Homo sapiens: one gene and its partners. The protein of the gene in region 2 interacts with the protein of the main gene of each other region in a pairwise test. Each region holds a gene or a part of one and is shown on either strand. Other genes may lie near its edges.

Region 1 (3,650 bases), on a different chromosome or scaffold from region 2:
ATCTGTGTCAGAAAGGAAATGGAAATGCAATCTGAAAATACCTAATTGGATTTGATTTTTTTCCTCCCCTGAGAAATCTTACTTAGATTTATTACAGATACTTTTCCTCTATTTTATATCATACTTGTTTATTCTTACAATTTTCTCTTTGAAAATCAGCTTTATTTAGCAAAATCTGTACAAACCAAGTCTTTCTTATGACCCACAAGGCCCTCTCCATGTCCTGTCCAATGCTAAAACTGTGCACATAGTAGGTGCTCAGTAAAAATAATTATTTTCTCTCTTCTTCTGCTATTTGGATCTATGAGCACGTTGAATTTCTGTCCAGTGGTTCTACTGGGCATGACCAGATGTACATGGAAATGATGTGATGTGTGCTCAGCCATCCTTCCAATCACTCAAGAAGTATTCGTTAATCAGCATTTTACCATATGACTGGCGCTGTCCTAGCCAGTGGTGGAAAGGACAACGGTGAACAAGCCCCTGCCTCAAAGAGTTTAGGTGTCTTGAGTGACACAGGCAATAACAAATCACCTTGCGTTTGCCACTTATAATAGTGCACTATTATAATAAATATAATAATCCTCCTGTTATATGTGGGAAGTGCACAGTGCTGTCACAGGGGAGATAGCCAGCCCGGATGGGCAGTGCTGGAGTGAGAGAGGGAGGATCTTCTGGGACCAGGTTATCCCATTCACTGGCTACTTGACCTTCTGAAACCAGAGGTAACACTGTGTTGTATTTGTGTAGTGCCTGAGACATGGAGTCACCCAGTGCCTGTTACATTAATACAAATTCTAAAAAAGAAAATTAGTAAGCATCCTGCTGGTTAAACAGACATTGTTCCGAGACAATTCAACTTAATGAAGACCGACTGGGAAGTAACTGCTCAGAAACCCAAAGTTTATAGCATGGCTTTGAGAAAGTGGGAAGGAGCTCAATAACACCATAATTACACTTTATTGGAAACAGTGGCAACCAGGCAGATGAGATAATGAATTTCAGTGTGTCTAACACAGACCATCCACCCCTGGAGGAACCCTGTGTTTGGACTGTGGGAGGAAGAGATTGATTAGACAGTGAGGAAGGATTATATTCTAATTCACCGGGATTTCTCTTGGCAAGAGCATTTAAAAGTTTTTACGTACTTTGTACCCCCTTAGAAAGCTTCACATAATCTTTCATTTTGTGATGAAATGAAGAGTTTCTCTCTGAATTAGGTGACGTCCTGACAAAGCCTTGCAGGCAGGGCCTTTGGGATTTCCTGATGTGTCAACAAGAATACCATCCTCCTGGGATCAACATTCATAATTTCCAGAGAACTGGACTCTTATTTGCATATAGAATAGCCTCATGTCAGCCTGCCAGAGGGAGGAAGGGGCAGATGTGGTACCAGCATTTTGCTGAGATGGTTGTCAGTATTTATGGTTCCATGAAAGTAAAAATCAATAATGTTATGAGCCAAGTGGATGTCCCATTAGCTAAAAGCCAGGCTTCCTTCATAGAGTAAGGGAAATATGAAACATAGGAGCCTGTTTGCAAATTATTTCCTTATGTGTTATTGACCTTCATAGAGGCAAGATAGGCCGTTTTATTTAGAAATATTTTGCTTGGCATTATTCACAATAGCAAAGACTTGGAACCAACCCAAATGTCCAACAATGATAGACTGGATTAAGAAAATGTGGCACATATACACCATGGAATACTATGCAGCCATAAAAAATGATGAGTTCATGTCCTTTGTAGGGACATGGATGAAATTGGAAATCATCATTCTCAGTAAACTATCGCAAGAACAAAAAAGCAAACACCGCATATTCTCACTCATAGGTGGGAATTGAACAATGAGATCACATGGACACATGAAGGGGAATATCACACTCTGGGGACTGTGGTGGGGTGGGGGGAGGGGGGAGGGATAGCATTGGGAGATATACCTAAGGCTAGATGACGAGTTAGTGGGTGCAGCGCACCAGCATGGCACATGTATACATATGTAACTAACCTGCACAATGTGCACATGTACCCTAAAACTTAAAGTATAATAAAAAATAAATAAATAAATAAATAAAATAAATAAATAAAATAAAAAGAAATATTTTGCTCGACCCTAAAGCAGGAATAATCAGTGCATTTTCATATTGCCCCCTTAATTTTCTCATTTTTACAGCTACTAAATAGTTAAGGAGATTGCATGTGTGTTTTGGGGGTAGAAGGGAACATTAACTCTTTGTTTAGCCTTTTATGCTGTCTGTGATCTGGTTAGTTGATGCGGGGTTAATTGAGCAGCCAGGAAAAGGAGACTTCTTTAGGGACATGTACAGAAATTTGGGGATTGTGATAGCAGCAATGCTTTGACCATACTGAAATTCCAAATCTGCTTAGATGACTCTGTGACTGTACACTGTGAGCAATTTCCAGCTATCTTTGGAGCCAGAAATCAGTGATAACTACAGACATACCTTTCCTTGTGTGTGTATGTGTGTACACATGTGTGTGTCCCTCCATTTCTTTGGAAAGAAAAGCATTTTAGAATGCCTTCCTTGTTTTCCCTCGTTCCGTTCAAACATAAAATCCCTGTCTCCTCATTGTTCCTTTATAGACCCAGCTGTAAATAAGGATACTATAGCCCACCTAAGTTTCGTATTCAGTGCTCCCGGCTTGGCTCTTATCCTATCTATTGTTCTGAAATTCAGGGCTGCTTCTCCCTGTGCACACAAAGCGGGAGGAAAAAAACACCAGCCGGGCGTAGTGGCTCACGCCTGTAATCCTAGCCCTTTGGGAGGCCGAGATGGGTGGATCACCTGAGGTCAGGAGTTCGAGACCAGCCTGACCAACATGGAGAAACCCCATCTCTACTAAAAATACAAAATTAGCCGGGCCTGGTGGCGCATGCCCGTAATCCCAGCTACTCAGGAGGCTGAGGCAGGAGAATCACTTGAACCCAGGAGGTGGAGGTTGCAGTGAGCCGAGATCATGCCATTGCACTCCAGCCTGGGCAACAAGAGCAAAACTCCATCTCAAAAACAAAAACAAAAAACACTTACCAATTTGGTTTATTTTCCCCATCATTATCTATGTATCAGTTTAATTAAAATTCACCAGGTACCCATCGCTTTGTGCCATGCCCTGGACTTTCAGATATGACTGTAGCATGGGCCCTGTCTTTTGTTAAAGAATACTGTGGCGGTGAAATCATGACTGTCTTACAAATATAAAATGAACATGTGCCAATGATTTTATTTAACTCACTAATTAATAAGGAGACCAAGAAAATGTTAAAACTGTTTCGAAGGAGAATTCGCTTTATAAAGATTTACATTTTCTACTGAACAAAAATTAATTTGCATTGTTACAGAGACGAATTATTTGTATTGTTATCAGTTTGCCACAATTTATGTTCTACTCCTACAAAGTTGTAAAATAGCCTAGTCAGAGATTAGCCAAAGAATTAAAGTTTCCCACCCCCTGTAGAATTAGGTAATTCATGCCCAGCATTCCATAGAAAGGGTCTATAGTAATCTCTATGCCCATTTCCAAGTCTTGAACCCTTTTTATTTCCTGGATAGAAGTGACAGCTGTGGGGACAGGGATTTAATTGGTCGTGGGGACAGGGATAGAGACTCACAAAGCTCTTAAGAATCACA
Region 2 (3,650 bases):
CATAAGAGTAAGACACATGCAAGCCTTGTCTTCATGGACACCTAGTCCATTTCAGAAAAAGGACAGGTTAACAGACAAGACAAAAAGTATCATAGGTCAAGTAAGAGAGAGAATTCAAACTCAGACACTGGGGGTAGGGAAGGCATCCAGGAGCAACATCTCAGCTGATATTTGAATGATGTATCAGTGTGATGACAATTCAGAGATGATCTGAGGGGGCATCTAAAATCAGTTCAGCTTGGCTGGAAGATTAAGTGTACATATTGGCTAAATAAGTAAAGGCAGATTAGCTAGGAACGGATTATAAGAAATATTGAAAGTCAAGTTAAGATGTTTGGACTCTGACATTTTAATGGTAATGAGGAGTAATAGACATATTAAGCTGACGGTTTACACTGTCAGTTTTGCTCTTTAAAAATAATATTATACATGACCTCAAAATACAGAGAAAACATGAAGTCTGAGACCACCAATTCTGTTCTTCAAGACCTTTCTCTCACCAGTGCTGTTCTTCAAGATCTTATAGTATTATTTGCAGTCATCACTAACAAAAAGGGGATATATCCCAGTCATTAAATATTTCCATTTTGTAATCCGTTACATGGCATATTTGACATTTCCTGGAGATCTACAGACAAAAATCAAAGATTGCCAGGTTAGTTTGTTTTTATCATTAGCAATCCTAGATAGACGATATACGTCCTGCTGAAGTCATTCCATGCATAAGGGCTGTCTCATTAGTAAAGACCAGTTATGTACTTTCCAGGAGATGTGTCATTATTATTTTTTAAGAGATTTGACCAAGACACTTTTTTCCTTTGGAGGATAGTGGTGGACTTGCTGTTAACTCCTTACTTCTCAAATGGAAACAGGTACCAGACATTTATAATAGTCCAAGCCTTCACAAAGCTGCTTATTTTTCAGAGTTTATCAAAGACTAGGAGATAGTTGGAGGGATTCATGTTTGGAGTATTTCCAGGGTTATTTACAGAGAAACAACAACAACAAAATAAAACAAATAGATACAGGATATTTGTAAATATCCTTTATGCAAATAGATACAGGATATTTGGAATGATGGAGCAGAAACTGTAAGTGATAAAGAGAAGAAAGTGACAAAAAGTAACAGGCTAGTAGATAATATAAATAACTGAGGCCAACGGATTTGAGCCATTGGTTTGATTGTAGGAGAGGTATGTGGAATAACTGATGGGGAAGAAGGAAGAAGCGGGATTTTTTGGAAGAAAAGATTATGGCTCAGGATAATTCTTCAAAAGTGAAACCTTTATGGTGAAGGCAAGATTCAGTATTTGGTTACAAAAGTGGTTACAAAAGTCTGAAGTAACATAGAAGTAATGATCAATGACTACATGAACTTAGAGAATCAAGTAGATCACACACACCAACAATAAAATTACACAGAATGATAAAAGAATTTGAATGGAGAGTGAAACCATGAGGCAGGTGTTCAAATCTTCAGTTAAAGCAAGGGAATGGCCACAAGCTTAGAAATAGCATCAGATAGGAGAGGTATAGATTAGTTAGTTAAGTATCATAGGAATAGAATAGGGGTCTTTTTTTAATTATACTTCAAGTTTTAGGGTACATGTGCACAATGTGCAGGTTTGTTACATATGTATACATGTGCCATGTTGGTATCCTGCACCCATTAACTTGTCATTTACATTAGGTATATCTTCTAATGCTGTCCCTCCCCGCTCTCCCCACCCCACAACAGGCCCCAGTGTGTGATGTTCCCCTTCTTGTGTCCAGGTGTTCTCATTGTTCACTTCCCACCTATGAGTGAGAACATGAGGTGTTTGGTTTTTTGTTCTTGAGATAGTTTGCTGAGAATGATGGTTTCCAGTTTCATCCATGTCCCTACAAAGGACATGAACTCATTCTTTTTTATGGCTGCATAGTATTCTATGCTGTATATGTGCCACATTTTCTTAATCCAGTCTATCATTGTTGGATATTTGGGTTGGTTCCAAGTCTTTGCTATTGTGAATAGTGCCACAATAAACATACGTGTTCATGTGTCTTTATAGTAGCATGATTTATAATCCTTTGGGTATATACCCAGTAATGGGATGGCTGGGTCAAATGGTATTTCTAGTTCTAGATCCCTGAGGGATCGCCATACTGACTTCCACAATGGTTGAACTAGTTTACAGTCCCATCAACAGTGTAAAAGTGTTCCTATTTCTCCACATCCTCTCCAGCACCTGTTGTTTCCTGACTTTTTAATGATCACCATTCTAACTGGTGTGAGACGGTATCTCATTATGGTTTTGATTTGCATTTCTCTGATGGCCAGTGATGCTGAGCATTTTTTCATGTGTCTGTTGGCTGCATAAATGTCTTCTCTTGAGAAGTGTCTGTTCATATCCTTCACCCATTTTTGATGGGGTTGTTTGTTTTTTTCTTGTAAATTTGTTTGAGTTTTTTGTATATTCTGGATATTAGACCTTTGTCAGATAAGTAGATTGCAAAAATTTTCTCCCATTCTGTAGGTTGCCTTTTCACTCTGATGGTAGTTTCTTTTGCTGTGCAGAAGCTCTTTAGTTTAATTAGATCCCATTTGTCAATTTTGGCTTTGCAAGGACTTCATGTCTAAAACACCAAAAGCAATGGCAACAAAAAGAATAGGGGTCTTTAAAGTGCAAAATTTTTAAGACAGATTACAATCACAAGTGAATCATTGGGAAACTGGTAACTTTGACTCAAGAGAGATGCAGTGCAAGTCATATCTTCAGGAAAGAGCTAGATTTCCCTTGAGGACAAAAAAATGAGCATGTACAGTAAAAAGTTTGGGATATTGAATAAGATCTGCCAAAATAAAGAATATAAACTAATAGAAGTTTAGGGAAAGAGAGATCACTCTTTTTTTCTATCTGGGAAAATAAAAAGCCTCATGGAGGACCAGAAGGCAAGCTATAAAATACAGATAGCATTTTGAGAAACAGAAAACATTCAAGAAAGACAGACTAGAACAAAGAAGACAAGGGGTGAAAATTCTGAAGTAAATTAATGCATACAGTGGCAAAGGGTTCCATTCAGCTAATAGATGAAAAGAACTAGGAAGGGTTATAAGTAAGATTGGAAAAGTTCAATATGGCTAATGATGGATTTTATATGAAAAATGTTCACTTTTATTCTGCAGTTTTTAGAGGCTTTTACAAGAGGGCTATAAAACGAGAGCTATACATCTAAGAATAAGCTAGATTTCTACAACATTGTTAGAAAATGTCATCAGTAAGACAATTTAGTAGCTTTAGTTTAGTGGTATTCCATAAACAGTGGATACTCAACAGCATCCTTTCATGACATTGCTTAGGTGCCTGAGGGCCTAAGTAGAAGCCCATGAGGATACTGGACTTTACTTTCACAGATCTTTTCGTGTAACATTGAGTATCAGACCTAGAGTAGGCCACAGATGATCTAACACAAATCATTTGTTTAGTAAAGAAAACATTTAGGTCAAAAATTACTGTACTGTTTTTTCTTACTGCCAAAACTAGAAACTAAAACCACAGTTTTCTGAAAACTAATTCATTGGTATTTCTTCTGCATGTAAAATGGAAACTAACAAGGTGTTGGCAGAGGTTATATTTTCACCTCATAAAATGTTTTTTTCCTGTAATATT
Region 3 (4,133 bases), on a different chromosome or scaffold from region 2:
GAGGCGATGGGGTGAGGTTCCAGAGGGCAGGAGGAGGGAGCAGTTCACTTTCATGGACATCTCTGCACAAAGCTCACCCAGAGGCAGCCCAGCAACCACCCATTGCCCACCCCACTCCCTACACTCCTCTCAGAGGGCTGCTGGAGATGGAACTGGCTATAGACCCATTGCCCATGTAGGTAAACGATGCAACAGCCTGACTCAGCAACCTGCCAGAGCTAGGGAAGCTGGAGATTCTCCATAGAAGGCCTGGGTAAAGGGACCCACCTGAGTTCTGAGCAGGTTTTGCCCCTGGTCGTGCTGGTTTTTCTGGGCTTTGCCAATCTTCTGGGTCCCTACCAATGGTGAAATTCTATCTCCTGAACTTCCTCATCTAACCACATCCCCAGTCCACTCCAAGGGCTAGAGTACCCCTCCCCTTCATCCTCGCAGGAGGCCTCAAAGTCCACCGCCAGGGCTGAGGCTCAATGGTGTGTGTGTGTGTGTGTGTGTGTGTGTGTGTGTGCTCGCGTGTGTGTTGGTGGGAGAGTAATGGTAACATACAAGTCCCAAACCTGTTCTTCTCGGACCTGGGAAGAAAAGCTGTCAGGTCTGGCAAAAAGGTGGAAACTTGGTCTCTGCCAGGAGGAAACAATCAGTTCCTCACCCTTCCTGGCTGGATCCTAGCACATGGGAAAAAGACAGAACACACCCCATTTCCGTGGGTCCCTGGGGGAAGGAGCAGCCGTAATTGGGGAAGTTTCAGAACATGGAAACCCCTTAATCTTGCCCAATGAGGGCATTCATCGTTGGCAAGGTCAGAACTCCAGAGCCACACCCTGCCTGCCCTGCTCCCAGGATGGCATCTTTCCCTCTCGGGAGGGAGGCTGCCTCCTTTCATCAGGCTGAGTAGCGGGGAGGGCGATGGTAATCCCGGGGATAGGAGGGGCTAGGTAAAGGCGGATCCGATGGAGCATAGCTTCCAGGGCGGGGTGTTGGGTCACCTGGGTAAGGGTTAAGAAGCTGGAGGCAGCAAGCCAGTTTTGAGTGAGGGGGGACCTGAGTGAGGGGAGAGGGGAGGTTAGGAGGGGGTGAGCTCTCCTTCTCCCTGCAATAAATCGGCTTAGCGGACGAGAGCCGAACAGCCCAGAAAGGATTAAAGAAAAGTCTGTATAATACGCGGAGAGCGCGGCGAGGGGAGGGCAAGGAGGGCGGGGGGGCGGGGAGAGGGGGAGGGACGGAGGGAGGGCGAGAGGAGGGGGGTGCTCGCGCCGCCGGGAGAGGCGAGCGCGAGGCAGAGAGCGCGATTCGGCTCCAAACTCCGGCGCTGCAGCCGATCGGACTCTGGGCCGCGGTGGGCACCGCGCGCAGCTAGGGAGCCGAGAACCGCGGCGAGCCCCGAGGACGCCCAGAGCGCGAGGGTCGCTGCGCCTCGCAGAGCCGGAGCCGAGTCGAGCCGGGCGCCCGGGCTGCCTGGCCGCGGCGGCATGGGGGCGCCCCCGCGGCTCTCCGCGCTGCCCGCCACCGCCTCGGCCAGTGGCCGGAGGCAGGAGCGCGTCTGAGCCCATGGCGAGGGGACCCGCCGCCACCGCCTCCACCCCCGCCGCCCCGCCACCGCCGCCAGCTCCCGGGCACCATGCGAACCGCCCCGAGCCTCCGCCGCTGCGTCTGCCTGCTGCTCGCCGCGATCCTGGACCTGGCGCGCGGTGAGTGCGCGGGCGCCTGGCGGGAGCCGAGCGGTGAACGTGCGCGGGGACGGGGTGCCGGGGGAGGGCGCTGGCCGGGGTCGCTCCGAGAGGCTCGGGCTACGAGCACCGGTCCTGCCCGGGGTCTGTGGAGCTGGTTGGCTCGATGAGGGAGGGAGGACGCCTCTTGGAGAGCGCTCATGGATTTGTGCCAGGGTGTGTGTGTGTGTGTAAATTGTGTGTCTTTGTTGTGTGTCTGGGTGAGGGTGTCCGGGAAGGAGCTGTGTGGGCAGAAGGTGCGGGAGTGTATTTAGAGATGCAAGTGTGTGTGTGCGTGTGTGTGTGATGGTGTGGGGTCTGCGTGTGAGTGAGCGAGGGTCTGGATGGGTGTTAGAGTGTCTGTGTCAGTTACATGGAGAAGGTGTGTGTGTGAGAGTGTGAGCGAATGTTGGGGGGAGGGTGTGAACATGTGCCACCTTCCCTGTGAGGGTGTGAAGTGTGTGAGCTTGTGTCACTGTGGGTGTGAGGTGTTAGGGGGTGGGTATGTGAGGTTTGGCGTTTCACGTGTGTCCCGAGTGTGCAGGTCTCTAGGGGTGTACGACAGCGGATTACTATTTCTGTGTGCACAGGAGATGGGACTGTGACACTGGACAAGAGTCTGCTTATGTGGGATGGGTGGGGGTGCAGGTGCCTGGGAGTCGTGGGCTTCATGGGGCTGGGAGTGTGTGTATGCGTGCCATGGAGCGTGTGGTTATCGTGTGCAGGGAGGTATGGACGCTTCCGGGGCTGGGGAGTTGTGAGCAGCTCAGTGTGTGTGTGTGTGTGTGTGTGTGTGTGTCCCGCCGTGTGGACTTGCTCCCGGGTTAGGCTAAGACAGCTAGAAGGAGGTTGAAGCCGAGCGGGTTCTCCGGAGCCAGTGAGAGGTGGCTCCGCAGCCCCAGGGTCCGCGGCCGGCCTCCCACCCAGTGCCGCCGCGTAGTGGGTCTTAAATGGAGCTGAACCCTTTCGCGCAGTGAGCAGAGAGCCAACGTGAGGCTAAAAGCCAGGAGGGAGGGAGGCGGGACCAGCGAAGAGCCGCAGGCACCGAGACTACAGGCTCCGCGTCCGGGATCCTCCTCGGAGCCTGGTGCCAACCTCAGCCTGGCTGGAGTCAGAGCCTGGCTCCGCCTCGGAGGGGAGCGGGACGCGAGGTGCCAAAAAGTCGTCTTTATGATCAATAAGGTCTCGACCCCGAGCCCCACTGGATGATAGAGGTGGGCATCACCTCTGTCCTATGCCATAGCCTTGTCCCAGCAGGAGGTGCCTACCTAGGCTCTGAGAGTGCCTGCCAGGAAGGGGTGCCCCCTTAAAAATAACCCCAACTCCTTCTACCCCGAAGTCCTTGGGGAGTGCTGGGTCTGCTGATGGGAGAAGCTGCAGAATTTGAGCCCGGAAGGTGGTCCTGACAGCGAGGGGGGAGGGGTTGGTGTAACCCAGAAGGAATGCAAACCCTGTACTTTGTTCCCCTACCCTTGGAACAAGAGACTTTCCTAAGTGGATCAAAATGTCCCCCCTCAACTTTGGGAGGAGGGCTCTAGAGGGAAAGGTTACATGGGGGAGGTCCTCGTTCCAGCGCCGCCGAGAGGGCACTGGGGTTTGTTGAAAGGCACTGGAGCCCTCACCTGGACATTGCAGGGGGCGGGGGTTGGAGGCTGGGGACCTAAGGTAAGCACCCCTTTCCCTGGGAATGCGCAGAACAGAGAGACGCGGCAGGGTGAAGGAGAGGACTGATGAGAAGGGCTTGTTGGGAAACCCTGGCTCCGTCAGGACCCCACCCTGCGAGCTCTCCCTGGAACCCGGGAGCAGGGTTCTTCTGGCTGCCCGGCTGCAGAGAGCTGACCCGGCATCCTGACGCCTCAAATCCCTTTGCCCGCCTCTGCGGGCTGCGGGAGGCGGGGGTTGGCGTGCCTGAGGGTGAGCGCATCTGGGCCGGTGCAGCCAGCGCGGCCTCGGAGCTCCGCTGCTCAGGATGAAGGAAGAGCGCAGACGCGGATCGCGAATGGGAAACTTTCCGCGTCTGGGGCGCAGAGGGAGATCCGAGGCAGCCGGGAGCCCTCTCTTCTCCGCAGAGGAGAGCACACGAGGGTGGGGTCCCTCCTTCCTCCTTCCAAGTCTGTGCCCAGAATGGGGGGCGGGGTGCGAGAAGAGTCCGTGAGAGACGCAAGAGGCGGGCTGTGCCGGAGGAGGGCGCCCTTCCTGGAGGTGGCCGAGAGAGGTGCACCTGGCAGCGGCTTTGCAGGGCCACCTGCCTCCGAGGGCGCAGAGAGGAGCAACCCGCGCCGGCCTTCACGAACGTACTGGCGGTCACTGCTCGGGGAGGGGCACGGCCAGAACGCCCTCGCCGGTTCTGCCCCTTTGGGTGGCAGAGCAAGGGTGCCCGACGCTAGAGAGTCGGGTCTGGCAGGAGGAAGGAGGCCGCTGCCCCTCGCA

What was found.
Region 1: the proteins of SULT1E1 (region 2) and ENOX1 interact in a two-hybrid assay, tested with the Homo sapiens proteins (one large-scale study listed by BioGRID and IntAct).
Region 3: the proteins of SULT1E1 (region 2) and IGSF21 interact in a two-hybrid assay, tested with the Homo sapiens proteins (one large-scale study listed by BioGRID and IntAct).

The regions. Positions count from the first base shown.
Region 1 is NC_000013.11:43,349,838-43,353,487, reverse strand, and holds part of ENOX1 (ecto-NOX disulfide-thiol exchanger 1), read left to right. Parts: intron 1-3,650. UniProt on the Homo sapiens protein: Probably acts as a terminal oxidase of plasma electron transport from cytosolic NAD(P)H via hydroquinones to acceptors at the cell surface.
Region 2 is NC_000004.12:69,850,056-69,853,705, reverse strand, and holds part of SULT1E1 (sulfotransferase 1E1), read left to right. Parts: intron 1-3,650. UniProt on the Homo sapiens protein: Sulfotransferase that utilizes 3'-phospho-5'-adenylyl sulfate (PAPS) as sulfonate donor to catalyze the sulfate conjugation of estradiol and estrone. Is a key enzyme in estrogen homeostasis, the sulfation of estrogens leads to their inactivation.
Region 3 is NC_000001.11:18,106,514-18,110,646, forward strand, and holds the start of IGSF21 (immunoglobulin superfamily member 21 precursor), read left to right. Parts: upstream 1-1,284; 5' UTR 1,285-1,615; coding exon 1,616-1,685; intron 1,686-4,133. UniProt on the Homo sapiens protein: Involved in synaptic inhibition in the brain. Selectively regulates inhibitory presynaptic differentiation through interacting with presynaptic NRXN2.